2 separate regions of the Homo sapiens genome follow, and region 1 is linked to region 2. The links come from fine-mapping of genetic effects on gene expression. A gene starts in region 2. The other region holds a variant in brackets. All regions are shown on one strand. Distances are from middle to middle. Region 1 holds the start of ST3GAL3 (ST3 beta-galactoside alpha-2,3-sialyltransferase 3). Region 2 holds the start of KDM4A (lysine demethylase 4A).

Region 1 (15,895 bases), 55 kb before region 2:
ACACATTTGTGTCACTTCTGAGCAAGGGTTGGGAATAGCTAAATGCCATATAAACTGTTGGCATTTAAGCAATGTTTAAATTTTTTATTTTTGGAGATGGAGTCTTGCTCTGCTGCCCAGGGTGGAATGCAGTGGCGTGATCTCGGCTCACTGCAACCTCCGCCTCCCAGGTTCAAGCAATTCTCCTGCCTCAGCCTCCAGAGCAGCTGGGACTACAGGTGCACGCTGCCATGCCCAGCTAATTTTTTTTTTTTTTTTTTTTTTTGTATTTTAGTAGAGACGGGGTTTCACCGTGTTGCCCAGGCTGTTCTGGAACTCCTGAACTCAGGCAATCCGCCCACCTCGGCCTCCCAAAGTGCTAGGATTACAGGCATGAGCCACTGCGCCCAGCAACAATGTTTAAATTTGTATGGGATTTTTTTTTTTTTTTTGAGATGGAGTTTCCCTGTCTTGTCACCCAGGCTGGAGTGCAGTGGCACGATCTCGGCTCACTGCAACCTCCGCCTCCCGGGTTCAAGTGACTCTCCTGCCTCAGCCTCCTGGGTAGCTGGGATTACAGGCGCCTGCCACCATGCCCAGCTACTTTTTGTATTTTTAATAGAGACGGGGTTTCAACACATTGGCCAGGCTGGCCTCGAACTCCTAACCTCAGATAATCCACCCACCTCGGCCTCCCAAAGTGCTGGGATCACATGTATGAGCTACTGCACCCGGCCCGTATGGCATTCTTATCAACTGTCTCTTTTTGATCTCAGAGTAATTCCCTTATGCCTAACACTCCCAGCCTAGCATCATCCATCACTTAAAATGCATATCCTTGTTAGTAAGACCTAAAATAAATGCAAAAATAAAACCACAACGTGGCTGGCCGTAGTGGCTCACGCGTGTAAACCCAGCGCTTCGGGAGGCAGAGCTGGGCAGATCACTTGAGCCCAAGAGCTCGAGACCAGCGTGGGCAATATGGTGAAACCACATCTCTATAAAAAACACAAAAAATTAGCTGGGCGTGGTGGTGCGTGAGTGCCTGTGGTACCAGCTATCTGGGAGGCTGAGGTGGGAGGACCACCTGAGCCTGGGAGGTTGAGGCTGCAGTGAATCGTGATCATATCATGCCAGTGCACTCCAGCCTGGGTGATAGAGTGAGTACTTTTCTCAAAAAAAAAAAAAAAAAAAAATCCCACAACGTTGGCATCTTTAGGTAGTGAGATTTAAGACTAGTGATCACCTACCATGAACCAGGTAATATACTAAAGATTAGAAATATTATAACTGTTTTTTATTATTAAACTATTACTTGTATAGATCTACTAATAGCTCAAGACCAGGCTTTTTACACCTATTCCCTCCAATCCTCAGAGCAACCTGGCAAGGTAGGAATTTTTGTCCTCATTTTCCAAATTTGAAAACCAAGAAGACATGACATTCTGAAGCCTATCCAAGGTGACACAATAGAAACTGGCCAGGCTATGACTGAAATCCTGGTCTGCTGCTCATCTAGCCCTAGGAAGCACACAGACATGCCGCTCACATGTTGCACCAGCGTAACTATCCTTCCGTCCAGTCTTACCTCATTCTAACCTTCATCCTGCATAAATATTTTATGACTCTTGTGTAGTAGGCATGGTACTATGGATGCAAACCTCAGAACTCCCCATGTGAGGGAAATAGCTATTCACTATTCTGCCTCTTCCACACAGTGATGTTCCTGAAAGGCAAAGCTGACAAAGTAGTCACTTTCTATCTTCAAATCCTTCAGTGGCACCTAATCACCTTCAGGATAAAGCTCTAACTTCATAACTCACAAAGACCTTCACAATCTATTCTTGACCGATTTCTGCAGCCTCATTTCCCACACACTCCCCCAACAGGCTCCATACTCCTGCCACACCAGTGTCTTTAGGATGTAGCCACATTCTTTGCTTCTAGGCCACAGCACACATTGTTGCCTGTGTGAAAAGCCTTTTAAACCCATATCCACCCAGCTAATAACTACTGATTTTTCAAGATGTAGGTCAGATGTGAACTTCCCTAGAAAACCAGTACTCATATTCCCCACGATATCAGGTGCGCTTTTAGAAGATCCCACAAGACCCTCAACCACAGCCCTTGTTATAATGTATTCTGCTTCTGGTTATAATGTATTCTTTACTTGCTTCTGGTCCTACTAGACTGGAGGTTCTTTGAGGCCAGGGACATGTCCTTCATACCTATCAAGCCACCACCTAGCACAGAGCCTGGCAGAGCTTATGTTCAGTACACATTTGTGGATGATGAGAGCACCTGGTCTAGTAGGAGAGAAAGAAATGTATACACTCACATAAAATATGAAAAATGTGAAAATAAGAGATCGTAGGGATGCTGTCCAAGGGAGAAAAAAGGTGGGGAAATCCAGGGGAACCCTTCTACCTGTATTTCTGAGGGCTCCTTACCTGATTTCTCAAGTTTCTTCTAACCTTGCTGCAGCTGGTTAGAAGCACTGTGATCATGAGTGCTTACTGTGAACCACGTGCTCTGCAAAGCACTTTACATGAACTGACTTGTTTAATTCTCACAACTGCCCCATGCATTTCACTGATGAGGAAACTTAGGCTCAAAAATAAGATTCCTGCTTAATGTCAGACAACTATTAATAGTGGAAGAGCCAAGATCTGAACCCAAATCTGTTTCCTGAACCAGGGCTCCAACCAGCACTGTTTCTATTGTCTGTCAAAAGTGAAACCTCCTCCCCAAATACCAAGTTTGCTAGGTTCAATTAAACCAGTAAGGTTAAACTAAGATTACTTTTTAATTTTAACCATTTGAGTGAAAATGCACCTAAAATTATTACACATTTCCCAATTTCTTATAAATTGAATACCCTGAATATAATTTAACTTTTATTTTTTGCTATCTCAGAACCATTGCTGTATTTGTTACTAAGAATGCTGTAACATAGTAAGTTTTGTAAAAGACATTCCTCAGGAATGACTGTGTCATAACTCGGATGTAACAGATTGCCCTTGTATCAACACCCTTGGCCTGTGAGCATTTACAAGTGCTTGGAAGAGTTTTGACTCTGAATCTACCATTACCCCATGCCTGGTTAGAGCTATTATTTCTTGCTACTGTCAATGTTTGTCTCTAGCAGCCCATCTGATGTGCTACCTCTAATCTTCAATGGGCTGTGATACCCCAGATGAGGTAGTAGTCATTAGTGCTATGCACCAAATATTTCTGGCTCTTTGCTTCCCAGACATATGCTAACACTGAAATTCTCTAACCTTCTTTAAAGTTAGGCATGGCTATGTGACTTGCTTTGGCCAATGAAAATGTGAATGAAAGTGGCATGTGCCATAGTGGGACAGAAACTTGAAAAGCCAGTGTCCACTTGACCACTATCTTTTCATTTAATCAAAATGGTCATGGCAGTACCATATTAAGATGGAGTTTCTATCAGCCTCAGTTCCTGAGTAACTGTGAAGAGTTTCCTGTACACTCATGCTGGACACGTCACATGAATGAGAAGTCAAGTTTTGTTCTGTTACGCCACTGAAGTCTTGAGGTTTTTGTTAGTGCAGCCTAATCCAAGCTATCTATGTCAATACAGATCTCTCAGTAAGGGATTCTCTCACATAAACAACTTTATTTATAGATTTTAATGATAAACATTTTGTTTGGATAAAGAATTATCTCTGCATCCATCCTGATTCAAAGCTATTTTCAATATAAAATATATTTGCCAAGTACCTACTATGTACAAAGTTGGATGATGAAGAGGACAGTCTATGTCTTGAAATAGCTTCAGTCTTATACTGTGGGTAGAAGCAGGATTTAAGGCAATTATCGCAAAAAGGCAGACTCTAATGTTATGGTGGTTTAAACTTAAAGAAGAGAGACAGCTCATCTAGATGGGAAGAAAAAGTACAGATAAGCTTCACAAAGGAAGTTCCGTATCAAATGGCCCTGAAACATACGTAAGAACAATTAAAGTCAAGGAGACTATTTAAGATAGAAAAAGCCAACATGAGCAAAGATACAGAGCACAAACAGCAAAGCACAAAGAGCAAATAGTTCCATTGACCTGGAAAATATAACAGAATGGCAAGAAATCAGTTTGCCCATATTGCCCATGCCAGGCTGGTCTGTGCCTAACGCAACAGATAATGGGGAGCCATTCAAAGTCCTGGCTGGAGAAGTGACAAACTTGGAAGTGATGGCAATACACATGATGGATGGAAGGAAAAAAATGTTAGGGGGTTTCTGTGGTAATTCACAGGAATGGTCCAATGGCCCCAGATCAGTGTGATGACAGTAGGAGTGAAAAGAAGCAGATGCCAGGCTAGGTATGGTGGCTCATGCCTATAATCCCAGCACTTTGGGAGGCTAAGGTGGGCAGATCACTTGAGATCAGGAGTTCAAGATCAGCCTGGCCAACATGGTGAAACCCCGTCTCTATTAAAAATACAAAAATTAGCCGGGTGTGGTGGCACACGCCTGTCGTCCCAGCTACTCAGGAGGCTGAGACGGGAGAATTACTTTAACCCAGGTGGTGGAGGTTGCAGTGGGCTGAGATGGGGCCACTGCACTCCAGCCTGGGCAACAGAGGGAGGCTCTGACTCAAAAATAGAAGCAGATGCCAGAAACAGTGTGGAAGTAGGGTCAACAAGACCTGGCACCCAACCAAAAACACGGGGAGAAAAAAAGAAGAAAAGTAAGAATAAACTTGAGGTGCCGCTTCTGGGTTGAGAGAACTGTTATTCCAAGTAGCTGAGGTGAATCAGAAAAGCGACAATGGGCTAGGTGTGGTGGCTCACGCATATATTCTCAACACTTTGGGAGGCTGAGGTGGAGGATTTCTTTCTTTCTTTTTTTTGACCGAGTTTCACGCTTGTTGCCCAGTCTGGAGTGCACTGGCGCGATCTCGGCTCATTGCAACCTCCACCTCCCGGGTTCAAGCGATTCTCCTGCCTCAGCCTCCCGAGCAGCTGGGATTACAGGCGCCTGCCACCACGCCTGGCTAATTTTTTGTATTTTTTTTTTGGTAGAGACGGGGTTTCATCATGTTGGCTAGGCTGGTCTCGAACTCAAGGTGGGAAGATTTCTTGAGCCCAGGAGTTCAAGAACAGCCTGGGCAACATGACAAGACCCTGTCTCTACAAAAAAAATTTTTTTTAATTCTCCAGGTCACCTGCCTGTGGTCCCAGCTACTTGGGAAGCTGAGGTGGGAGGATCGCCTGAGTCCAGAAAGTCAAGGCTGCAGAGAGCCACATTCACTGCACTCCAGCATGGGTGACAGAGGGAGACCCTGTCTCAAAAAAAAAAGAAAAAAGAAAAAGTGACAATGACAAGTAAAGTGTTACTGTATTCCTGATAGTTAGCTACAGCTTCCTTTGAAGTAAATTCTATTACTTGTTTACTCTTTGCACCACACAGGACAAAGGTACCTCTTGGATTAATGCCATCAACCTACCTTTTGTGCAACCTCATATCCTGCTTTTTCTGCTAAGAAACCCCCTGGAACCACCCATGAGCATCTCAGGTTCCCCTGCACCTTTGTCATCCTCACTTTCTCATCTGCTCACTTCTTCCCCTTCATACAGCCGGCTACCCACTCTTCATGACCCAATTCAAGCCTCAGCTTCCCTGTGAAACCTTCCTCAAACACATGGATTTCTCCTTTTCTCGGTTTCTCAGAGTACCTACCATCTTGGAATTCTAGAGACCATATCACAGTTATCATTGTCATGTGTGTGCTTTATTCCCTCAAGTATATTATAGGCCCATTAGAGCAAGTTTCTTATCTTAAATGGTTTTGAGTTTCCCCTCAGTCAATGCCTTGCATAAAATATGTACTCAAGAGGCGTTCCATTGATTGATACAAAGTCTGTTAGTCTCTGAGAACATGAATGTCTTGTTTCATCGTTAACATTTTATTTTTATTAAACCATGGTTAGACAGTTAGACACGCGAAATGGAGAGATTCACCACTTAATATCTCAAAATATCCTTAAGAATCTCTAATCATAGGAGGAGCTGTATTGCCTTAAGAGATTATTTGAAAGTATCATTTGGCTATAAATTTCTGTGCCAGCTTCCTTTTAATCCTCTGTTGACTTGAAAGTACACCAAACATTTCAGTGATCATCTCTACAAGATAATTCTGCCTTAGAAACAACCTAATTTGTCATGGGGACTATCTTACTTTTAGTAACCTAATAAGAGTTTTTTCCTACCTTAATGTCCAGCTATCTATAATTCACAGTACATCCACTGAAAAGTTTGAGTATTTTACTTTCTGAGGTAATAGCCGCCTTCACTGGTCCTTCCCTCAATTAATTACATTCAGTTATCAGGTTTCACTCCTTCCTCATACGTGAAGGAAACATAAATGAGGCTTACTGAGGAATCATAAAAATGGACATTGTTGTAAAAAGGAATCCAAAATGTTCATGGGACACTCTCCTAACCAAACCTGCCCTCCTCACTAAGATATTTTCTCTTGCAAGCAAAAGCACCGAGGACACAACGGGGGAAAGTGCCAGAAGGAAAGGAAGCAAGAGAGGCGTACTTTGCCGATCAAACTGACCCCAGTTCTGGCCCCCGCTAGAGCAGTAAGCAATGACAACCGCTACCCAAACGCTGCCGATTCCCGCTCAGGCGCTCCCTGGACTTTTCTTTCCTTTTCCCACAGCAGGGCCCGAATGACGGTGTCCGTGCTCTGCGCCAAGGTGCGCAGCGCTGCGGGGTTTCACACGGAGATGATCTCAGACCTCCTGGCCTGCGTCCGGCCGGCCTTTCCCCCAGGCTCGGCGGCCCCCACCCAGGAGAGGTCATCCAGGTACTGGGCCCCCAGCCCGAAGGACGACTGGGCCGTGCCCCGACCCCGCCTTCCCGGGCACTAGCGCGCGGGCTCCGCGCCCCGCCCAGCCCGGGACCCGCGGCCGGCGGGGGAGGGGCGGGGCGGAGCGGCGACCGTTATTCGCGGTCAGCCATCGCGCCCCGAAGCGCACTGGGCAGGCCCTTACCACAGCGGAGAGGGAGGCAGGGGGGAGGTGGCGCCCGGCCCGACGCGGGGCAGGAAGGCGGAGGCAGCGGCGTAGGCGGCGGCGACAGCCGCGGGGGACCCCGGCGGGAGCCCACAACGCGCTGGGCTGCATGGGCGCCGCCATAGTGGGGACGCAGCGGCGGGCGGAGCGCGCGGCCGCGACCCGGTCGGGCGCCTGCGACCAATGGGCTCGCGGAAGCCGGGCGGAGCGAGGGCCTGGCCAATGCGGAGCTGCGCTGCCCCGAGCAGCCCAATAGACGCAGGAGCCGCGGATTTGCCGTCCCGCCCACCCCGCCTACCACGAGAGCAGTGCTGCGGCGAGTGCGGGGCGAGAGGTTCGCGCTGGTGGAGCACCCCAGCTTGCAGGTTCAGCGTGGGTGTCTCTCCCGGGCACATCGAGCTGTCTAGAGGAACCCTCTTCCCCTGGCTTCACGGCCCAGAGGACGCACGGCTCTCTCCCCTCGAGAGCGTGTTTCGTCGCCCGCGCGGGGAACGCAAAGTGCTAGGGTAGTCACGGCCACTTCACGCCGAGGGACATCTCATCTCGCCCTCCAGGTCGTGAGCGCACCCATTCCGCTCACTGAGGCCGAAAGCTTCGGACCTCCGTGGGCCCTGGTGGGTAAGGGGGCACGGGGGTGAGCGTTAAGAGACTCGTAGAACATTTTTAGTCCGCGCGTGGCACAAGGCCTCCAAGCCCCACGTACACTTTGCAGCCCTCCCACTCCTTTTTCATTCCTGCGGCTGAGCCCTGGTGTTATCCGCCTGGGGCGGAATTTAAAACTTAATTCCTCAACAAAGTCGGGGTGGTCTTTAAACTGCAACCTTGGATCCAAAGGCCCTACCTTACAAAGGGAAGGCAGTTTGCCCTACAAAAAGGCTTCTGGGAGGAGCTGCCTAAGGCAGGAAGGGACTGGCAGGCCGGGAGGTGCCGCTTTTGGCTGGGGCCAGTTCTCTTGAGGTCGACCCGACTGCATAGGCAGCCAGTAGGGGAGAGAACGGGCCGGTCTGTGTGATTTGGATCACCTGAGTTGCAGTTTCCTAAGAGTTATTAGGTTGACCAAAAAAAAAAAGTGCAGTTTCTGGAAAACTGGTCAGCTGTTGAGTAAAAACTGCTGGGATTAAACCCAGCGCCCACCCCTGGAGGCAGTGGGGTCATCGAGAAAGGTAGGGATCCTGTGTAAAAAGGCTGGTGAAGTGTTCCTCTCTTCCAAAGATGTATGGATTAGTGTTCTCTCACCAATCCACTAAGGCCTGGTTCTGCCCAGCCTCCCTTGCTACATCCCCTGGGAATCCCCAAGTGGAGTGTGGGCAAAGAAAAAAAAAGGCCAACTTCCCTCCCTGGGCCCCAGGAGGGAGCTGACATAGAAAAGATCACCTCCTGCACCTCCCTTTCTCCACAATGAGATACCAAGTAGCAACCACCTCTCAACCCCCAGGGACACAAGGAAGCATCCAGAGCAGCTGAACTGACCTAAGCCTCTCCTGCACCTGGACAGGGCCATGCCACAGGAAGTGCCTGGCTGTTTAAGGGCCAGCCGGTGCAGCTCCGGGGCACCCAAGTCCTGCACCTATTCATTGCCCCCCTCCCTGCTCTGTGGTTCCCCATCCTTGTCCACTTTGACCTCAGGGATCTACCAGCCAAAGGAGATTGGGTCTTCCTCCAGGGAAGCTTCTCACCAACTAGACAGCTCGGAGAGCAATCTGAGGATCCCACTGGAGGTTGAGTCCCTTGCTTTTCAAGCACCTAAAATGCACCCATCCTTCCCACTGGTTCCACAATTTGTATAGAGCACAGATGCTGGCATGAACTTAGGCCAGTTCAACAAAGATGTATCAAATGGGGCAGCAGTGAGAGATACTCTGTTGAGAGGACTCATTGGTCTGGTGCTTCCTCTGTTACCTCATCTTGCCCGTCTCTAAGGCAGAGCAAGCACAACAAAGAGGTGCTCAGAGCCAGAAGTGTCCCTGCTCCCATGACCCACCATACTTGGCCTAATACAGAGCTTGACAAGCAAAGGACCCACTCTCTGGAACTTCCTAGGGAATGCCTTACTGATTTGTCTTAAAATACACAGCCCCGCTCCAGAGCCTATGACTCTAGATACACCCCCCAGCCTGACGTGGGCCACGTGGGCTCCTTGGGGCAGACAGCCAATCCTCTGCTCAACACATTTTATTGCTAAGGACAAGGTGATGCACCAGTTTTCAAAATAATTTGGTTTATAGTGTTCATACGTAACAAAAAAGGGGAAGTATTATAAATCTGATTCTTGTATACACAGGGTATTGGTGTGAAGCCCTCCAATCCTGGGCCCAGGCAAACAAATTCTTGAGGAGCAAAAACCTGTTTAACCCCTTCAGTATTGCCCTCTAGTCCCACCCCCCACCCCAAAATCAGCTCCCTCCCACCTACAGTGGGCCTCCAATGGCCCCAGTTTTTTCATCCTAACCCTCCCAGCCCCTGCATGATTGCAATTTTCTGTTGACAGAATCACCCACCAGGCTCTGCCTGCTTCCATCATTAAAATCCCCGATTCAGGGTAATCCCCACCCACACCCTGTAATACTTTGCCACAGGGGCTCTGCACCTAGAGTGTTGTGGGCACACACCCATGTTATCCCCATGTTCTCCTTTAGGGGAAGACAAAGAGGTGGCATCAGCTCCTTAGCATCTCAATACTGCAGCTTTGCCAGCACTGTCTTGAGACGGTTCCAGGCCTGGACAGATGCCACACCCATCTCCAGCCAACCCCCAGGAGCCCTTACTCAGCTCAGCTGAGGGCAGAATTTCACATTTTGTTTGCCCTGCATAGGCAAGGAAGAAAGTAAAGGCCAGGGGCTGGCAGAAGCTGGTCCAGACCAAACATAC[A/G]CGCACGCACGCACGCACGCACACACACACACACATATAAATACAAAAGTAGGGGTTGGGGCAAGTACCAGCACCTCAGCCTAGTCGGTGCAGGTGATAGTTATGAAGCTAAGTCCTAGGCCAGGAACAAGGCAGCCAGTCCAGCCAGCATAGTTGACCCCTCTATGGACTGGGGCCAGTGCAGCCACAGCATTCCAGTGCTCAGCCCCTCAGCTGGGAGATCAGCGACTGCTGCCACGTGCCCAGAAATGGCTCGTCCTTTCACTACAGCGGAATGCAATGAGGGTGGGTGAGAAGATGATGGGTCGGTTATTTCATTCCTTTTCTTTTTACAACTTCACTTTCAGAGACTTCAGCGTTCCATGTCTGCTGTGCTGTGGAACCCAGAGTGCTCTTGCCTGGATGGCTGAGAATCCCTTGGACCCTGGAAGCACCTACTCCATGATGGCCCGGTATAGTGCAGGCTCAATATAATCTTCCCGGTATCTTGAGTTGATAACTCGTTGCCGTTTCTTTTCTTGCTTAACCTCTTTCTCTGTGAAAATCTCATTGAAGCGCATGTCTGAGGCTACTGACTATAGAAGAATAAGCAAGCCAAGTGTCAGCTACCCCAGGAACAATACAAAGGGATGCATCCTTGACTTGTTCCCTCCCTCCAAGACAGGAACTGGGGGGACACAGAAAATACTCACCAGTCTAGATTTGACTCTCTTGGGAAGCTCTTCATCCAGTGTGTATACATCATCTCTCTTAACCACAAGTTGTGAGCCATCCTCAAACTCCACCTACCAAGGAAACAAAGGCCTTTTGGCTAGGATATCCCTGACTCTTTCCCTGGTCCACCATGCACAGTGGCAGTCCCCTACAGTCAAAGGAAGGAGTTAGAACACTAAAATAACAACTACCTTACTTCACATTTGGCAGACTGGAAACAGGGCAGACCCCTAGCTCTGAAAGGGTTACCAACCTATTAGTTCTCCTAAGAGCAAAGACTCGCCTCTGGCCCAACAGGAAGCACAGAATTAATCAAGCACCCCCCACTCCCTAGAAAGGTAGAACTTTGGATACCTGGTACATTTGGATAGGGTGGGAGGCCACAAACTTGGCTCCATAGACTTGGCCGTCTGTCCATCTCACTTGGACCACTTCCCCTTCAGCAGGAGGACCAAACTGGAGACAGTCCTGGCTCTGAGGAAACAGGAAGGAAGGAGGGTGAAAGGAACGTCCACCTGCACACAAAGGTAACTGTCCTCTACTCAGGGAAGAGTGAACCAGGACAAAGTAACTGTTTTAGAGAGCAAGGCAGCTCTCTGGGCTGAAAAATGTTAACAGTTAAAGACCTTGCTAAGTCAAAGTCTGCCCCTATCTCTGCCCTCTCCTGCTTCTAGGTGACCAAAAAAAAAAAAAAAATCCAGCTATAACAAACTTAGTAAACACAGGAGTTAAGTGCCAGAATCAAGAGTCCTTCTTACATTCCCTCAACTGTTCCCCTGCGGGTTCTCCAGGGCTCTGCCATGAAGAAATACTAGAACCATACTCAACTATAAGACATGTGTTTTTTTTGGCCAGGCACGGTGGCTCATGCCTGTAATCGCAGCACTTTGGGAGGCTGAGGCAGGCAGATCACCAGGTCAGGAGATCAAGACCATCCTGGCTAACATGGTGAAACCCCATCTCTACTAAAAATGCAAAAAATTAGCCAGGTGTGGTGGCAGGCGCCTGTAGTCCCAGCTACTCGGGAGTCTGAGGCAGGAGAATGGTGTGAACCCAGGAGGCGGAGCTTGCAGAGAGCTGAGATCACGCTGGAATACAGTGGCCTGATCTTGGCTCATTGCAACCTCAGCCTCCTGGGTTCTAGCAATCCTCCTGCCTCAGCCTCCCGAGTAGCTGGGACAACAGGCACGTGCCACCATGCCCAGCTAATCTTTGTATTTTTAGTAGAGACGGGGTTTCACCATGTTGGCCAGTCTGGTCTCGAACTCCTTACCTCAGGTGATCTGCCTGCCTCGGCTTGCCAAAGTGGTGGGATTACAGGCATGAGCCACTGTGCCCAACCAAGAAATATGTTCTTAACAGGAAAGATGAAAAAGAGTCACCTACCATGGGACCTGGCAAAGTACTTCAGAACTTTTATTCCTTCCAGAAGCAGGTAAGTACCCCAAGTCCTCATCGTATTCCCAGCATAGGGCTTGGTATACGGGGGGATATTTCATTCAGCATATTGGCTGAATGAAAGGTCTGATAGGTATACCTGGGAGAAGGTCCTTAGGGACATGGCTTAAAAAATGAGAGAGGGGCAGGGCAGTGAGTCTAAAAGGATGTGGATGCTCACATCTGCTCTTACAATCATGCTACAGTTCATTTATTGAGTGGAAACAGTTCCCTACTTATTGACAATTCATTTACTGAATAGGTAATCAGTAAATACATTTTGTATCAATCTAACAATTAGGCATAAACTACAGCCTCCTACACCCAATATCTGAGGTGTTCTAAGATTTAACTACTCAAATGTTTGATATTTGATAAATTGTTTAAGTTCTCTGCAATTCAGTTCCACCTCCTATAACAGCACTTCTGAAAATGTGGTCTGTGAACCTCTGAGGGGTTCCTGAGACACTGTCAGGGAGCAAGTGAGACATGGCTATTTTTATAATATTAAACTATTAGCCTTTGTCACTGTGTTGTCATTTACCTAGGATAGGTACAACTGCTGGCACCTGAGCACAGATCAAGGCACTGACCCTAAGCTCTACTAGTTGTTATTGCATTTTTCACCACTGTACACTCATAATTTAGGAGAAAAGAGCAAAAACTCTAGATTGCATGTAACAATATCCCTTGATGAAGCAGTAAAAAATTATTAATGTTGTTAAATCTTAATCATTGAGTACATGTGTTAAGTCCTCATAAGACACTTTTGGTTGTCTCAAAGAAATCTATCTGTGTTGTTTGAGTTGTGAATTACACTAGCTGCTTTGTTCATGGAATACCAGTTTTATTTGAAAAAAATTACTAGGCCAGGCATGGTGGCTCATGCCTGTAATCCCTCACTTTGGGAGGCAGAGGTAGGAGGATCGCATCAGCCCAGGAGTTCAAGACCAGCCTGGGCAACACAGGGGAGACCCCATCTCTACAAAACATAAAAAATTATCCAGGTGTGATGGCACACGCCTATAGTCCCAGTTACTCGGAAGGCTGAGGACTGCTTGAGGCCGGGAGGATGAGGCTGCAGTGAGCCATGACCATGCCACTGCACTCCAGCAGTGGTGCTGCGCAACAGAGCAGGACCCTGTCTTTAAAAAACTCTATGAAAATTTAAAAAAAGAAAAAAGTGACTGACAAACTATGGCTTTTCAGACTTAGGTATCTGGCAGACATCTTCTTGAAAATGCATGAAGTGAACGCCTGTCATGTCAAGGAAAACAAAAGTCAGTATCTGTTGCCAATAGTAAAATTCAGGCTTTCAAACAAATATTAGCATTTCAGAGAAGCGGCATTCACAACTGTGAGCTTGAAACTTCCCAAAATTCCAAGTTTTTTGATTATTAGTGATACTAACAAATGTAATTTTTAAAATATTTATGGCCGGGCGTGGTGGCTCATGCCTGTAATCCCAGCACTTTGGGAGGCCAAGGCGGGCAGATCACGAGGTCAAGAGATTGAGTCCATCCTGGACAACATGGGGAAACCCTCTCTACTAAAAATACAAAAATTAGTTGGGCGTGGTGGCGTGCACCTGTAGTCGCAGCTACTTGGGATGCTGAGGCAGGAGAATCGCTTGAACCCGGTAGGTGGAGGTTGCAGTGAGCCAAGAACGCACCACTGCACTCCAGCCTGGCGACAGAGCGAGACTCTGTCTCAAAAAAAAAAAAAAATTAAATTTATAATAATATTTAACAACATTTGGAGGCTGTCGATAGGCCAGTGCACCAATATTTTCTAAATGACCAAAGTATGATGTTATAAAAGGATGCATGGGTGAAAGATCCATTCAGAAGAGACCAATGGGTTTTAGTGTTAACAGTATGAAACGTTCACTGACCTTTCAGATTCCACACTGCAACTAACTTTTAAGAACCTGCCAGGAGCAGTGGCTCACACCTGTAATCCCAGCACTTTGGGAGGTTGAGGCAAAAGAAATCGCTTGAGCCCAGGAGTTTGAGACTACCTGGGCAAGATGGCAAGACCCCATTTCTACAAATAGCCATGCATGCCTGTAGTCCCAGCTACTCGGGAGGTGCTTGGTCAACAAAGCAAGACATCATCTCTTAAAACAAACAAACAAACAAAAAAAGTTGTTACTTCCATTGAGTTTTGGTGGATATCAGAGAATAATAAACACAATTACCTGAAAGACTATTAAAATACCTCCCTTGGCTGGGAGTGGTGGCTCACAGATGTAATCCCAGCACTTTGGGAGGCCGAGGTAGGCGGATTGCTTGAGCCCAGTTTTGAGACCAGCCTGGGCAACAAGGCAAAACTCCATCTCTACAAAAAATTAAAAAATTAGCTGGGCGCCAGTGACAAGGGCCTGTAGTCCCAGCTACTTGGGAGGCTGAGGCAGCAGAATCACTTGAGCCTGGTATGTGGAGGTTGCAGTGAGTTGAGATCACTGCACTGCACTCCAACGTGGGTGACTGGAGTGAAACCCTATTTTAAAAAAACAAAAACAAACTCCTTTTTCCAATTACATATCTACGCAAGGCTGAATTTTCTTCCTATACTTGAACCTAAACAGTGTATCACAATAGATTGAATCAAGAAGTGACATTAAGGCCAGCGCGGTGGCTCACGCCTGTAATCCCACCACTTTGGGAGGCCGAGGCGGGCGGATCACGAGATCAGGAGATCAAGACCATCCTGGCTAACATGGTGAAACCCCATGTCTACTAAAAATACAAAAAATTAGCCGGGCATGGTGGCGGGCGCCTGTAGTCCCAGCTACTCGGGAGGCTGAGGCAGGAGAATGGCGTGAACCTGGGAGGTGAAGCCTGCAGTGAGCCAAGATCATGCCACCGTACTCCCGTACTCCAGCCTGGGCAACAGAGCAAGACTCCATCTCAAAAAAAAAAAAAAAAGACATTAAAGAGATTTGCAAAATTGCAGGGAAATGGCAATCTTTTGTTTTTGTTTTAGAAAAGTTATTTTTAATCTAAAAAAATTGATTATTTTAAATCAATCTGCTTTAATTTCTAATAAGAATAAATACGTTTAGATGTAACCCAGAGAAACACAGGCTCTTTGGGGTCTCTAACTTGTAGAAAATGGAGTCCTGAAACCACTGTAAGTTAGAGATAATACCACATCCTTCTCACAGTGGGTATGAGAAGATAAAGAGATACTTGAAATAACCACTTAGCATAGTGCCTGGCATACTGTACCAGCTTAATAAATTACAGCAAGGGCCAGGTATGGTGGCTCAAACTCTTGTAATCCCAGTGGTTTGGGGGCCCAAGATGTGAGGATCGCTTCAAGCTGCGAGATCGAAACCAGCCTGAGCAACAAAGCAAGACCGTTGTTACTACAAAAAATTTAAAAATTAGCCAGGTGTGACTGCATGTGCCTGTAGTCCCAGCTACCTGGGAAGCTGAAGCAGGAGGATCACTTGAGTTCAGGAGTTTGAGATTGCAGGAGCTATGATACAGCCACTGCACTCCAGCCTAAGTGACAGAGTGAGACCTGGTCTCTCTCAAAAAAAAAAAAAAAAAAATAAGGCCAGGCACAGTGGCTCACGCCTGTAATCCCACCACTTTGGGAGGCCAAGGTAGGCAGATCACTTGAGCCCAGGAGTTTGAGACCAGCCTGGGCAACATGGCAAAAGCCCGTCTCTACAAAAAATTAAAAAATTAGCCGGCTGTGGTGGTGCGTTCCTGTAGTCCCAGCTACCAGGGAGGCTGAGGTGGGATGATCACCTCAATCCAGGAAGTTGAGGCTGCAGTGAGCTGAGATTGTGCCACTGCACTCCAGCCTGGGCGTCAGAGTGAAACCCTGTCTCACAA
Region 2 (15,895 bases):
TTGGCCTTCAAGGCTCTAATACGTAGTCAGTCCCTCAACGTCCCTTCCATGAGCACTGGGCCTGAGGAAGCCTGAGGAAGGTAATGTACACACAGATGTAAACCGGTCTTCCTTAACAAGCACAACATCCTCAACTCTCTGAAGAGACTCTACTTAAACTACACCTTGCTAGATTCAGGTGGCCACCCAGGGAGAAAATGGGCTTACAGACCAAGACCCAAGGTCCCTACATATCCACAGACAACCAAAACCCAGCAGCATGTGAAGAGCTAAGGCTTTCCAACAGCATTCACCTCCCTGAACCAGCCAAAAGGAAGCTGCTCCAAGAGGGCTCATTTGTAAGTACCCCTGCTATATGCCCAAGCGCCCTACGCAGTGGCTGACACTCACCAAGTAATCACTCCTAAAAACAACAAATATTTTAGTAAAAATATAAAATAGCTCTAAAAATATAGATTTTTGCACATCCAATATTCCAATTAGGAAAATACGTACTCACATATACGCATATTTATATCTACCTATCTACATAAAGCCATAAAAATATCTACACTTTGGCCAGGGGTGTGGCTCACACCTGTTATCCCAGCACTTTGGGAGGCCTGGCGGGGGCGGATCACCTGAGGTCAGGAGTTCAAGACCAGCCTGGCCAACATGGTGAAACCTGGTCTCTACTAAAAATACAAAAATTAGAGGGGCGTGGTGGCACACGCCTGTAATCCCAGCTATTTAGGGTGGGGGCTGAGGCAGGAGAATTACTTAAACCCAGGAGGAGGAGTCTGCAGTGAGCTGAGCTAACTAACGCCACTGCACTCCAGCCTCGGCCATAGAGTAAAACTCTGTCTCAAAAAAAGAAAAGAAAACTATACCTTAAAAAAAACTATACAAGATCCTTGCTCTGCTGCCCAGCCTGGAGCACAGTGGTGTGATCATAGCTTACTGTAGCCTCGAACTCCTGGGCTCAAGCAATCCTCCTGCCCTAACCTCCCGAGTAGCCAGGACTGCAAGTGTACACCACCACATCTGGTGTTTTTATTTTTTGTAGAAATGAAGTCCTGCAATGTTGCCCAGGTTGGTCTCAAATTCCTGGCCTCCAGTGATCCTCCAACCTCGGCCTCCCAAAGTGATGGGATTATAGAAGTTAGCCAATGCACCCAGTCTAAAAATATCTATACTCTTTAGCTTAATACTGAAAATTTAATTAAAAAAAAAAAAACTTCTTTTAGATTCAAACTAGCCAAGTACAGTGGCTCATGCCTGTAATCCCAACACTTTGGGAGGCTGAGGCAGGAGGATCACTTGAGCCCAAGAGTTTGAGACCAGCAACATGGCAAAATCCTATTTCTACAAAAACTTTAAAAATTAGCAGAGCTGGCCAGCAGCAATGGCTCACGCCTGTAATCCCAGCACTTGGGAGGCCCAGGCAGGCGGATCACAAGGTCAGGAGATCAAGACCATCCTGTCTAACATGGTGAAACCCTGTATCTACAACAAATACAAAAAATTAGCCGGGTGGTGTGGCGGGCGCCTATAGTCCCAGCTACTTGGGAAGCTGAGGCAGGAGAATTGCTTGAACCCAGGAGGCGGAGATTGCAGTGAGCCTAAATAGCACCACTGCACTCTAGCCCGCGCCACAGAGTAAGACTCCATCTCAAAAAAAAAAAAAAAAAAATCTGACTAAGTAACTGCCTTACACTTTAATGTCAACCTAGGGAATAATAAATTTTAGAGACCTAACATTCTCTCTGAAATACAATTAACTCCCCTATTGTCAACTAATCTGTTTCATGAATTTAGGTTTTTAGGTTGGGCACGGTGGCTCATGCCTGTAATCCCAGCATTTGGGAGGCCAAGGCAGGCTGATCACTTGAGGCCAACAGTTCGAGACCAGCCTGACCAACATGGTGAAACCCCGTCTCTACTAAAAATACAAAAAAATTAGCCAGGCGTGGTGGTGGGCACCTGTAATCCCAGCTACATGGGAGGCTGAGGTAGGAGAATCGCTTAAACCTGGGAGGCAGAGATTGCAGTGAGTGAGATTGTGCCACTGCACTCCAGCCTGGGCAACACAGCGAGACTCTGTCTCAAAAAAAAAAAAAAAAAGTTATGTTTTTACTTTAAAGGTAATCTGCTATGTATTAGGACGAAAGGAATAGACATAGGGCTGGTTAATTTAAAAGGAAAACAAGTGTGCTAAAAGAAGAAAAAGCGAGACCAGCCTGGCCAATATGGTGAAACCCCATCTCTACTAAAAATACAAAAAAATTGGCCGGGCGTGGTGGCGGGCTCCCAGCTACTCGGGAGGCCGAGGAAGGAAAATCACTTGAACCTGGGAGGCGGAGGCTGCAATGAGCCAAGATTGTGCCACTGCACTCCAGCCTGGGTGACAGAGCGACACTCCATCTCAAAAAAAAAAAAAAAAAAGAAAAGAAAAAGCCTTAACAAAAAGGGAAAAAAGGCTGAGGAGACTGAAGCCCCTGGCTGAATTCCATGTGAGAAACAGAAGGCAGGTGAGTTTGCTCCTCATGTGTAGCAAAAATCAGACAATAAGGATGGCAGGAAGGATACAGCCTTTCACCTGCAGAGCCCCACATTTCTTCAACATGCCTTTATGTAAATTCTCTCATCGGTCAGCAGGTTGGCCAGCAAGGTAGATGTTTTAAGAGTTAAGGTTGGCCGGGCACGGTGGCTCACACCTGTAATCCCAGCCCTTTGGGAGGCCAAGGCGGGTGGATCACGAGGTCAAGAGATCGAGACCATCCTGGCCAACATGGTGAAACCCTGCCTCTGCTAAAAATACAAAAATTAGCTAGGTGTGGTGGTGGGCGCCTGTAATCCCAGCTGCTCAGGAGACTGAGGCAGGAGAATTGCTTGAACCCAGGAGGCGGAGGCTGCAGTGAGCCGAGATCACGCCACTGCACTCTAGCCTGGCGACAGAGCGAGATTCTGTCTCAAAAAAAAAAATAAATAAAAGGAGTTAAGGTGTCAGCCGGATGCAGTGGCTCATGCCTATAATCCCAGCACTTTGGGAGGCTGAGGCAGGAGGATCGCTTGAGCCCAGGAGTTCAAGACCAAACTGGGCAGCAAATAATAAAAAATATTAGCTGAGCGCGGTAGCACATGCCTATCTATACCTCCAGTTACTTGGGAGGCTGAGCAAGGAGGATCATTTTGAGCCTGGGCAGTCGAGGCTGCAGTAAGCCATGATTGCACCACTACACTCCAACTTGGGTGACAGTAGAGACGGTGAAACCCCGTCTCTACTAAAAATACAAAAATTAGCCAGGCGTGGTGGCAGGCGCCTGTATGTAATCCCAGCTACTCGGGAGGCTGAGACAGGAGAATTGCTTGAACCCGGGAGGTGGAGGTTGCAGTGAGCCGAGACTGCACCATTGCACTCCAGCCTGGGGAACGAGCGAGACTCCACCTCAAAAAAAAAAAAAGATGGAGTAGTCAGAGCTGAACAAGGAAACACAAAATTTATTCTCTGTGAATCTCAGGAAAAATGAGAACTAAACATTAAAAACAGCGGAGAAGGGCCAGGAGTGGTGGCTCTTGCCTGTAATCCCAGCACTTTGGGAGGCCAAGGCAGGAGGATCACTTGAGGTCAGGAGTTCAAGACCAGCCTGGCCAATGTGGCGAAACCCTGTCTCTACTGAAAATACAAAAAATAGCCAAGCATGGTGGCGCGTGCCTGTAGTCCCAGCTACTTGGGAGGCTGAGGCAGGAGAATCACGTGAACCTGGGAGACAGAGGTTGCAGTGAGCCAAGATCACTCCACTGCACTCCAGCCTGGGCAATAAAGTGAGACACCATCTCAAAAAAAAAAAAAAAAAAAAAAAAAACCAACAGCAGAGAAGAACTGAAAACAGGCCTACACAAAGAAAGATATCTCTAAAAGAGACAGGAATGTACAGAGAAAGAAGGAGTGACAGAAAATAGCAACCAGCTTGGTGGTTTACTCACACTGTTAATGTCAAAACAGAAATGAGCTAGCAGGCTGGATGGGCAGTGAGAAATTCCAGCACAATTAAACACAGAGCATCCCGAGAGAGAGGAAGTGGAACTAAAGCACTTTTGATGAGCAGGTGGTTGATAATACCCAGCAAAAGCTCCTTGTGCACCACATCCAACTTTCTCCTTGCAACTTTAGAGTCAGAAAATGATTCTACTTCTGATGGAAAAACAATGGGATTTGTTGTTATAAGAACAGGAACAGGTTTAGACTGGGACACAGTCCTGAGAGGAGGGAATGCTTCCATAAAAAAAGCAGAAAGGGAGACAGCTAGAACAGAGCCATCCTGCTGAAGACACTGTTCATCAGGACAGCAGCAGTCCTGGAGATGCTAGGAGGATGAGACACCAGGGTCCTAGGTGCTATGTCAGGTAAGAAAGGGTTTCCACTCACTTATCGCTATTGGCTATCTTGCGGAACTCTCGAACAGTCATGGCTTTCTTCTGTATGTTGTACTGAGTAAAGAGGCCAGACTGCCCCGTCACCAGCTGTTGAATGGGGGCAGGAATGACCAAATCATCAATGTCATCATAGGATGCTCGTGGCTTCCACTCTTTTGGAGGAACAACCTGAAGGGAACACAAGAAACAAAAAGACAGATGAGAAACCTGGCAAGCCAGTCAGAGTCCAGGAAGCATGTAGTTACCAGCCAACCTAACAGTCAATTTTACTAGACAGTTACTTTGATTTACCCACATTCACCAAAACACAGTAAGTCACAGGCATGCTAACCCTGATCCACTTTTGCCACCAACCAGCTGCCTAATTGCAGCAACCTAAGGTAAGTAATACTTGTTCCCAGCTTCAGTATCTTATTTGGACACCAAGAAAGGAGATTAAAGACTTGATTCTCTCTCAATCTCCTAGCCCAGGGCTCTCTTTAAAAAAATCACAAACACAACTTTACTTGATTTGGTCAACTCTATACTTGTACAGAATTTCCTTTTTTCACACACTAGATTACAGTTTAATTACAAAGAAGCATAACATTCTTAAAAATCTAATCTTGAGGCCGGGCACAGTGGCTCATGCCGGTAATCCCAGCACTTTGGGAGGCCGAGGCAGGTGGATCACCTGAGGTCAGAGTTTGAGATCAGCTTGGCCAACATGGTGAAACCCCATCTCTACTAAAAACACAAAAATTAGCCTGGTGTGGTGGCACTCAACTATAATCCCGGCTATTTGGGGGGCTGATGCAGGAGAATCGCTTGAACCCGGAGGCAGAGGTTGCAGTGAGCCAAGATTGCGCCATTGCACTCCAGCTGGGGTAACAAGAGCGAAACTCCATCTCAAAAAAAAACAAAAAAAATCTAATCTTGAATAGTTAAGTAAGATAGATCTGCTTTATGGAATACTATACAGCTTTTTTTTTTTTAATTAGAGAGTATTGTTTTACTTTATGTAACAAGGGAGAAAACAACACACACACACACACACACACACACACACACACACACTCACAAGCATCTGCATAAGGCAACACTGAAAGGACATATAAGAAAATACGGAAAGGGAGCAAGACTCTACATTAGCTACCTTCCAATAGCATTCTGTTTTTACTCACATAATCAAATTACCCATTCCAATAGTAATAAATTAACAAGACAGTCGACATGAGAAAAAAGAAGAATGAGTTGAATCCATAATTGACCTAGAGGGAGGAATATATGTTGTTAAAAAGGAAAAAAGAAAAAAAAAAAGAAAAAAGAATGAACGAACCAACACAGGAATGTATATGGCATGATGCCATTCTCTTTTAAAAACAAAACAAATAACACTATTTTATATGTGTGTATGTTTGTATGAGCAGAGAAAAAGGTGTGGAGGGAGCTAATACCACTTAAGGAGACGGCACTGGAGAAGGTGGATGAAGATCAGCCTTTTCTTTATCTGCGTTTGAAATATTTAACTTGTAATAACCGACATTTTTTTGGTAACTTTAAATCTAATAAAGTACAACCAAAAAAAGCAATGTGCTATGAAAAACTGCACTGCAGGCCCTGCTATTCCCGCCTGCTGTTATTAACCCAGCAGTAGCCGTATCTGCAGATAAGAAAGAGGATGTGGTCGTCTCAAGTCTCTGGAGGCACCAGGGTCCAAGACTGGTCCTCAGCTTTGTAGCCAATGTTCTTGCTTTCTCTTTTCATATTGAAAATGTAACAAGCACATATGGTAGGGAATTCAAACAACATAAAATGGTGTAAAAAATTTCCTCCTGGCTTAGACTGAGGTCCCTGCCTCTCAGTTTCCTGAGGATCTCTCCAGAAATGCAGTTCTTTCAGCTTCCAGCACTCAACCTGATTGTGACAGAATATATGAAAAGCTGATTTGACTCAGGAAAAATAACGAATCCAACTCACAGGAGAAAGAAGTACAAACCAGAAACCAATTTCAAATTACAAGGACCAGAATACTCATGTTGGCTGGCCAGTGCATTCTCTCCCCTTGAAGAAAGTCCACATGGGAAGCCAAATTGCTACTAGAGTGCTGGATGAGACTGAAATGAGAGCAAGAGAAGTCAGATGGCATAAGCACTCACTGGCAGTTCAATAACACCACAGCACCCAGCTCCACCAAGAGGGCTGAGGCACAACAGCAGCCAGGCCTGGAGACACTAGCTCTTTACCTCCCCCTTTCTGAAGATTCCAAGTAGCTCTCTTCCTACCTAAAAGCAGAGATGCTTCTGATGTTAACAACGGGAATTAACTTGCAAATAGAACCGCATTCACTAAAGTCATCACCCCACCCAACTTTCAGTAAAACACAGTTCCGGCCCAAATGTAGGAAAAAAATCTTACTGCTCTGCCCTAGGTAACAAAACCATTTGAACAATCCCAGCTCCTTACCTTGGCTAGCCCTGCCCGATGAGCTCCTTGGGATTCAATGTAGGCAATGTATCTACTGAAGTTTCGGAACTCTTCCATAGTTGGATAAAAGGTCATTATCCTAGCACTGGGATTCAGAGTTTCAGACTCAGAAGCCATTTTCCCTCCTTTTTGAGGTCCCTTTAGTCAGACAGGAATCTGAAGAAACACATTAAGAGTATAAAATAATATAAAAATTAAAATTAAGTGCTGGAAACATCAACTCTGAAAACAGTAAAAGATAATATAGAAATTCAAAAGACACAGTTAAGACTTCACACCTGGAATCTACCTCTAGAAAAGTTATTTAGGGGCCGGGCACGGTGGCTCACGCCTGTAATCCCAGCACTTTGGGAGGCCAAAGCGGGTGCATCGCCTGAGGTCATAAGTTTGAGACCAGCCTGGCCAACACAGTGAAACCCTGTCTCTACTAAAAATACAAAAAATTAGCTGGGCATGGTGGCGGGCACCTGCAATCCTAGCTACTCGGGAGGCTGAGGCAGGAGAATCACTTGAACCCGGGAGGCTAAAGGTTGCAGTGAGCCAAGATTGCGCCATCGCACTCCAGACTGGGCAACAAGAGCGAAACTCCGTCTCAAAAAAAAAAAAAAAAAAAGAAAGAAAGAAAGAAAGAAAAGTAATTTAGGGTGGGGGTGTGGTGGCTCAAGCCTGTAATCCCAGCACTTTGGGAGACTGAGGTGGGCAGATCGCTTGAGTTAAGGAGTTTGAGACCAGCCTGGGCAACATAGTGAGACCCTGTCTCAAAAAAAATTTTTTTTAAATAAACAACAAAAAGTTATTTAAATAAACTAGAAATACAGATCGAAAAGGTTCTGTTTAAAAAGAACCTGATGTATCAAAACTGCATGGATTCAAACCTTATTTCAACAGAGACATTGTTACTGCAATAGGATTGTTCTTGAAAGAAAAAAAAAAGAAAATTGTTTCAGCTAAAAAAAGGAAACTAATTATTTAGTTGTTGGTCCTAATAGTACAGCTAAAATGCCCATATTTTACCCTTATCCTTTCAAGCTACTCCCTTATTAACACCTTGCTAATCACTTTTCAGAGTATTAAACAGAATACACTACAACTTGAAAGCCACCCATGGCTGGGTGCGGTGGCTTACGCCTTGTAATCCCAGCACTTTGGGAGGCCAAGGCTCCTCCCTAGGGCACAGCTAAACCAGATACCTAATAAAAGTTACGTGGCTACAAGATAACAAAACTTAAGGGTTCAAAAGTACTTTGATATTAGTAACATGATTTAAAAGCCCTTTGATATTAGTAACATAATTTTAAAACCCTAAAGTGAAACTGTTCTGTTGAAACTAAGATGCAGTTTCAGCAGTACTTAATGAAATCAAGCTACAGACAAGTTCAGTTGCACTGTACCCAGAACTCAAAGGACAAAATTTAAACTGGCAATACACGGAAAACTTCATAACTGATTGGAGAAAGCAAAATAAATACTTTGTTTTTAGATGAGAACTTCAGCTAAGTGGGTGCATCCCCACAGCTCGGTAACGCAATAGACCACCTCAACTGAAAAAAGACAAAGCATATCAATGAAAATAGGCCATTCTAGAAGGAACACCAGTATGTCCTTTCCTTTACCCACCCTCCTCACTGAGGGTCCAGCAGTTCCGTACCCCCTATCTGGGGCCCAAAGGTATGGCGGTTCAGCTCCAAGACTCTCTTTGAGAGTTGGAGAGCTCAGAAAGGAGAAAAGCGCCTCCAATCCACCAGAAATCTAGTTACAGGCCTGGGAGCAGAACACGGAGCACAACTGTGTAAGGTAGGAGAGAAGGCAAATCCAGTTACCCGTATCTCCTAGGCTTCCTATCAAAAATAAGGCGTGTTTCTAAACAGGCGCTTTTCATGAACCTGGCAGAAACTTTGCATGGCAGGTATACTGTTCTCCCTGTTTTACATACCAGGAAATTTGCCCACAGCCCACTCTTAAGTGCACCTTCCACTGCTCTATACTGCTTACATACTCATCTCCACCTGGACTAAGTCCTCTGCAAGGGCAGCTCCAAGTGTGGAGAAACCCGAAGTTTATTTAATTTTGAAGACCCTCTTAAAAAGAAAAATGAATCCAAAATATCTTACTTTTGCACATTTTATAAAAACATACAATCATGTGAATACAATGTTGGGGCCCTTCCCCGGGCCTTCAAAGGGGCCCTAATGGGCTTCATCAGCCTCTGCCCCTATTCATCTTTGTATGCCTAGAACAATGCATGGCACAGAGTAGGCAATCGGTAACTGTTGAAAAACTGATTTCCTCACCCTCACCTCAATTGTTCATCCCTTCTTCAACCCTAGGATTCCCTTCCCCCAAATCTGTTCCCTGGGGAAAGCTCCCGTTTCATGACACCTTCCCTCCCAATCAGTAACAAAGCCTAGAGATTCAAGAACACCGGCTCCGAAGTCAAAACTCTGAATACAGATCCGGTCTCTGCCGTTTATTAGCTATGTGACCTTGGCTGTGTGAGCTGACTTGAGTCTCAGTTTCTCCACCTGTAAAATGGGGATCCCAACCCCCTGCCCTGCAGGGTCGCTGTGATTAGCTCAGATGATGCAAGCGAAGCACTAAGCACTAGGCCCGGTACTTACCCACTCAATAAAGCTAGCTGTTGCTAACAACCCCCTCGGACTCCCGCACCCTTCCCTCGCAGCCGCTCCCGCGAGCATCACTCCAAAGGCAGCGCACCCTGCTCCCCACCGTCCCCGAACCTCACCGCGCACAGGTTCGGCCCCTCCCGGCCCCGCCGCCTTGGCGAGTGAAGCTCGGCCGCAGGAAGAAGAAAATAAGGCCCAGATGACCCGCCCCCCTCTCCCGAGGTCCATTGGCCTTGAAGATTGGAAAGGACCAATCTCAGAACCCATTCTGGAAGCTCCTTCTCCTATTGGCCGAGAAACATGCCGATCACTCACCGCTGGAAGACCCACCCCCACCGCCCCTCCCCCACCAAAACTCACGGTCACTGCTACAGCGGCAATGATCCTCGAGAATTCCAAAACCCTATAGTTCTCACCTACAGCCCAAAGCCCCGCCAGGGCTTAGGCTCAGCTCCTGCTGTCGCCACTGGCCGATCCTACTGCTTTTCCAGCAGGCGAAGGCCGAAACTCCGCCTCCTCTAAAGTCGGCATCTGCGCAGCCGTACAGAGTCAACCAATTCAAGGGTGGCTGCAAGCCATACACCAGCCAATGAGCACGCGCCGCAGCCACCTCCCAGTCCCGACCTCAGTGTGCTCAGCCTATGAGCGCCGGCTCGGGCTGTTGCCGGGAGGAAACGCTGTACCACTAGGGACCGCGGCCAGTGAGCCTCTAGCTGGATCGCGAAGCTGGCCAATCATAGGCGGGCTCCTGGTCACCCATAACTAATCAGGGTTGAAAGAAGCTAGTACCTGGAAGTGGGCCGGTCCGGTAGATGGGTAAGGGCGGTGAGGTTACTATAGGATGTCGCTAACGAAAGGATAGGCCAAAGTTTTCTTGGGATGAGTATCCTCTTTGCCTAACGTGGAAATGTGTCGGGGCCCTTAGGGGCAGCTTCCGAGCTCAGGGAGTGCTGAAAAGATGACCGTCTTGTCCCGGTTTGTCCTGGGTGTCTCGGTTTTCAAAACAAAATCCCGTGGCCTTGGAAACCCCTCATTCGCTGTCAAGCCTGAACAGGGAAGGGAAGCTGCCCTGAGGGTCATTAGGACAGACCATGAGGGAGGCTCTCCTTAGGGTCATTAAAAAGCAATTCCTGGCCGGGCGTGGTCCCTCACGCCTGTAATCCCAGCACTTTGGGAGGCCGAGGCGGGCGGGTCACCTGAAGTCGGCAGTTTGAGACCGCCTGACCAACATGGAGAAACCCCGTCTCTACTCAAAAAAAAAATACAAAATTAGCCGGGCGTGGTGTTGCATGCCTGTAGTCCCAGCTACTCCGGAGGTTGAGGCAGGAGAATCGCTTGAACCCGGGAGGCGGAGGTTGCGGTGGGCCGAGATCGCGCCATTGCACTCCAACCTGGGCAACAAGAGTGAAACTCCGTCTAAAAAAAAAAAAAAAAAAAAAAAAGCAGTTCCTCAGTGAGCGGGGATTTGGGGGATCATTAGGAGCAGCTCTTGGGGCGGAGAGGGGGGCATCCTGGGAATCAGAAGAGGCACTTCTGGAGGGCGAGGGGGCTTCCTAGAAGTCATTAGGAGCGGTTCCTGAGGGGTAGTGAGTCGCCTTAAGGAATTCCCAGATTGTCAAGGGTAGTGGGGAAGGTCAAGTAGGAAAGTAAAATACCCACAACCAGAGTCATAAAAAAATATACAGAATTACCATGGATGAATAATGGGGTAGTGCCCTGGAAAGAGCTATATGGAGTCAGGCCTGTGTTCAAAACTAGTAACTTCTCTGAGCCTGGGAGTTCACATCAATAAAATGGAAAAAATAATGCCTTGCAAATTTTGTAAAGATGAGAGTTAATGAATGTTGGCAAAAAGAACATATTTCATAGAATGCTATGGACCAATCATGATTTATGCCTCAGGCTGGGTACATGCCTACTGAAAAAAAAATCTTTAAAAAAAATAGTTTCAAAAACAGAAATGACTGTTTCAAAAAGAATGGCCGTTGGCTACGCAGCCACAAGTCTTTCACAATAGGGGTTTTTGCCCTTACCCAGTAAGGTAATCGACAGTATTAGATAATAGATTATACTGAGTGGCTCACAAAAGTGCCGAGTCTGAAGAATCCAACTTGCAGGACACATAAAGAAAACCCAAATCCTGCGGTAGAATTCATCCACCACTGTCTTTCCTGCTGCCACTAAGCACAAGATACTGCAGGTTGCTTCACAGACTCCACTGTCCTGGACATGGATACAGTCGCTAGTTACTGTTACTGTGTTCCATAAACTGGATTTTGCTGTATTTCCTGGTGCTGCCAGATGATTTCCAAGGGCCCTCTACTGTGTATCACTAGCTTCCAATTGGTATGTGCATGTGATAGGTGGAGCCTAAATCAAGTTCTCGTGATATGCTCCCATTTTTCTGACCAGTTTTCCTGTTTCCTTTTTAAGCTCACCTTTCCCTTTGCACACTTTTTGTTTGTTTGCTTGCTTTTTTGTTTTTTTGTTTTTGAGACGGAGTTTCGTTCTTGTTGCCCAGGCACGATCTCGGCTCACTGCCACCTCCGCCTCCCAGGTTCAAATGATTCTCCTGCCTCAGCCTCCTGAGTAGCTGGGATTACAGGCGCCCGCCACCACACCCGGCTAATTTTTTTTGTATTTTTAGTAGAGACAGGGTTTCATCATGTTGGCCAGGCTGGTCTCAAACTCCTGACCTCAAGTGATCCACCCGCCTTGGCCTCCCAAAGTGCAGGGATGACAGGCGTGAGCCACCGTGCCCAGCCCCTTTGCACGCTTTAAATGTCGATATTCTAAGCAAAACTAACCTATAGCAATAAAAGTCAATGTTCTGGTTACTTTTAGGTAGGGGACAGGGAATGATGGGAAAGGGTGGCACAAAGAATGCTCTGGGGTGTTAGGAATTTTTTTTTTTTTTTTTTGAGATGGAGTTTTGCTCTTGTTGCCCAGACTGAAGTGCAGTAGTGTGATCTCGGCTCACTGCAACCTCTGCCTCCCAGGTGCAAGTGATTCTCCTGCCTCAGCCTCCCAAATAGCTGGGATTACAGGCACGTGCCACCACGCCCGGCTAATTTTGTGTTTTTAGTAGAGATGGGGTTTCACCCTGTTGGCCAGGCTGGTTTCGAACCCCTGACCACAGTGATCCACCTGCCTCGGCCTCCCAAAGTGCTGGCATTACAGGCACGAGCCACTCCGCCCAGCGGCAATGTTCTATTTCTTCATCTAGATGGTGGTTATGCTAGTGTGTTCACATTGTAAAACTTACTTTTATTTATTGGTTAGATAGATAGATAGATAGATAGATAGATAGATAGATATTTTTTTGAGACAGTTTCATTCTATCACCCAGGCTGGAGTGCAGTGGTGCCATCTCAGCTCACTTCAACCTCCACCTCCTGGGTTCAAGCGATTCTCCTGCCTCAGCCTCCCAGGTAGCTGGGATTATAGGCGTGTGCCACCACGCCCAGCTAATTTTTTGTATTTTTAGTAGACAGGGGGTTTCGCCATGTTGGCCGGACTGGTCTCAAACTCCCAACCTTAGGTGATCTGCCCACCTTGGCCTCCCAAATTGCTGGGATTACAGGCATGAGCCACCACACCTGGCCACTAAAATTTTAAATTTAAAAAAAAAATTTTTTTTTTTTGAGACGGAGTTTCCCTTTTATTGCCCAGGCTGGAGAGCAACGGCGTGATCTCAGCTCTCCGCAACCTCCACCTCCCAGGTTCAAGTGATTCTCCTGCCTCAGTCTCCCAAGTAGCTGGGATTACAGGCATGAGCCACCACACCCGGCTAATTTTGTATTTTTAGTAGAGATGGGGTTTCACCATGTTGGTCAGGCTGGTCTTGAACTGCCAGCCTCAGGTGATCCGCCTGCCTTGGCCTCCCAGAGTGCTGGAATTACAGGCGTGAGCCACCACGCCCGGCCAAAAAATTCTTAATAGAACTGGGAGGCTGGGTGCAGTGGCTCTCATGCCTGTAATCCCAGCACTAGGGAGGCCAAAGTGGGAAAATCACCTAAGGTCGGGAGTTCAAGACCAGCCTGCCCAACATGGCGAAACCCCATCTCTACTAAAAATATAAAAAATTAGCTGGGCATGGTGGTGCACACCTGTAATCCCAGCTACGCAGGAGGCTGAGGCAGGAGAATCGCTTGAACCCAGGAGGCAGAGGTTGCGGTCAGCCGAGATCACGCCACTGCACTCCAGCCTGGGTGACAAGAGCAAAACTCTGTCTCAAAAAAAAAAATAGAAGTGGGGTCTCCCTATGTTGTCTCAGCTGGTCTTGAACTTCTGAGCTCAAACAACCCTCCTGCCTTGGCCTCCCAAAGTGCTGGAATTTCCAAGCATGAACATGCCCGGCTGTGAAAATTAACTGATCTGTATGCTTGAAAGTTGTGCATAAGTTTTGATATACATATACCTTAGTTTTTAAAAGTAAATTTAAAATTTTTTAGTTAAAAAAAAAAGGAAAAACATGTTAATGTCCTCATAGCTTTAGGTCCTTTGCCCTCTTCTCTCATTCTACACAGTCTTCTTAGGTGCTTTTGTTTTATTTTTTCTTTGAGTTAGGGTCTCCCTCTGTCACCCAGGCTGGAGTGAAGTGGTGCAATCACAGCTCACCGCAACCTCAACCCCCTGGGCTCAAGCGATTCTCTCACCTCAGCCTCTCAAGTAGCTGGGACTACAGGCATATGCCACCAAGCCCGGCTAATTTTTGTATTTTTTTGTAGAGACGGAGTTTTGCCATGTTGCCCAGGTGGGTTTTTGTTTCTGTTTCTGTTTTTGTTTTTTTGACAGCTGCCCACGTGCAGGTGTTTCTGGCTCTACAACTCACTAGCAAGTTACTTAATTTCTCTAGTTCTCAAGTTTTCTCATAACTAAAACTGGGATAGTACTTCCCTTTCTGGGTTGTGAGAATTGAATGAGATAAATGAAGTAATGGGATAATGAAGTAAACCAGTTAGAAGTCTAATTGGCACGTAGTAAGTGCTCAGTAAATGTCAGCTCAGTAAATGATGATGATGGTACAAAGCACTTAGCACAGAGCCTGAAACAAGAGCTCAATACACTTTCACTCTTAGGCTGCACTCATGTGCACACTGATGACACCCATTGTATATCCCAGACATCTTCTCCCTGGAGCTCAGATCCATGTATCCTGCTGTCTCTGGATCCCTCCCCCTAGTTGTCCTACAGTTACTTAAAGCTGACCTACCCAACAAAGAGCTACTCTTGCCCCACAAATAAGCTGTACCTCCTAGGTTTCCTATCTCAGTTAGTGGAAGAGCCATGACCTAATTGCTTAAGCCAGGTGCAGTCCATTACCTCACCCTGTCCAGAGCTCCACAAAGCAAGTATTTTACAAATGCATGGATTTGTTTACATGTGCATCTTTCCTCACTAGACAAAAGTCTCGTGAGAATATCATTTTGGTCTTATTGCTAATACCGTTTAGGAATGTATTCCATTGCCAAAAATAGAAAACCCTAGCAAAAGTGGCTAAATACAAGTTTATTTTCTCATCGGATAAGAGGTCTGAAGGTGGTGAGCCTTAGCTCAGTGCTCAACAAAGTCATGAAACATACAGGTATGTTCCATCTTTCTCTTGCACCCTTTGCAACGTGGCTTTTGCCACCCTCTTGTGCAACTCGTGATTGTAAGGTGACTGCTGCAGCTCCAGAAGGAGGACAGAGACAGTGTCCTGTTTCTTCTATCACACCAGCAAAAAGACTACCAGAATCTGCCTGCCTGCCAGTAATGAGTGGAACAGACCCTTTCCTGCACTCATGGTTTTTATAATCTAGTGAGAGAGAGACATGAAGCAAGTGCTTGCACAAAGAAAGAAAATTATAGGCTGGGTGTGATTCACACCTGTAACCCCAGCTACTCCTGAGACTGAGGCATTCGAGGCTGCAGTGAGCTATTATGGAGCCACTGCACTCCAGCCTGGATGACAGAGTGAGACTCTTATCTCAAAAAAAGAAAAATTGCCACAAAGTTGTGCTTGCTATGAAGGAAAAGAATAGGGGAGAACACCTTTAGAGTGACTTGCCACCAATGGCAGCAGGATTTGGAAATAAAGCTATCATGGCATAAAGTGTATGCCATGTTCCCAGTCCAGGGTTTCCTTTCCTAGAGCTTCACTTTATCCAGCACTCAGCACAATGCCGAGCACATGGCAGGCATGACATAAGTAATCATAATGGCAATATTATTCGCTTAAAAAGTTAACTACACCTAGGCCAGGTGACGTGGCTCACGCCTGTAATCCCAGCACTTTGGGAGGCCGAGGTGGGTGGATCACGAGGTCAGGAGATCGAGACCATCCTGGCTAACACAGTGAAACCCCGTCTCTACTAAAAATACAAAAAATTAGCCGGGCGTGGTGG

What was found. PIP is the estimated chance that this variant, and not a neighbour inherited with it, causes the effect.
Region 1: its variant is fine-mapped to the expression of KDM4A in whole blood (TOPMed, PIP 0.98).

What each region holds. Positions count from the first base shown.
Region 1 is chr1:43,698,803-43,714,697 of GRCh38, reverse strand. It overlaps KDM4A (lysine demethylase 4A), which reads right to left. Exons shown (of 22, transcript NM_014663.3): 20 at 10,962-11,081; 21 at 10,586-10,678; 22 at 9,180-10,468. The coding sequence ends at 10,328. It overlaps ST3GAL3 (ST3 beta-galactoside alpha-2,3-sialyltransferase 3), which reads right to left and starts at 7,162. Exons shown (of 12, transcript NM_006279.5): 1 at 7,005-7,162. KDM4A-AS1 (KDM4A antisense RNA 1) reads left to right here and starts at 7,357. Exons shown (of 5, transcript NR_033827.1): 1 at 7,357-7,639; 2 at 10,241-10,345; 3 at 11,051-11,134; 4 at 11,970-12,042; 5 at 13,946-14,974. ST3GAL3-AS1 (ST3GAL3 antisense RNA 1) reads left to right here. Exons shown (of 4, transcript NR_125986.1): 4 at 5,163-5,306. RefSeq lists silencers at 6,695-6,744, 6,775-7,274 and enhancers at 7,405-7,484, 7,210-7,727. The variant A/G (reference allele first, on the strand shown) is at 9,894.
Region 2 is chr1:43,644,280-43,660,174 of GRCh38, reverse strand. KDM4A (lysine demethylase 4A) reads right to left here and starts at 10,026. Exons shown (of 22, transcript NM_014663.3): 1 at 9,923-10,026; 2 at 6,862-7,038; 3 at 4,409-4,584. The coding sequence starts at 6,999. RefSeq lists an enhancer at 1-393 and a silencer at 10,140-10,259.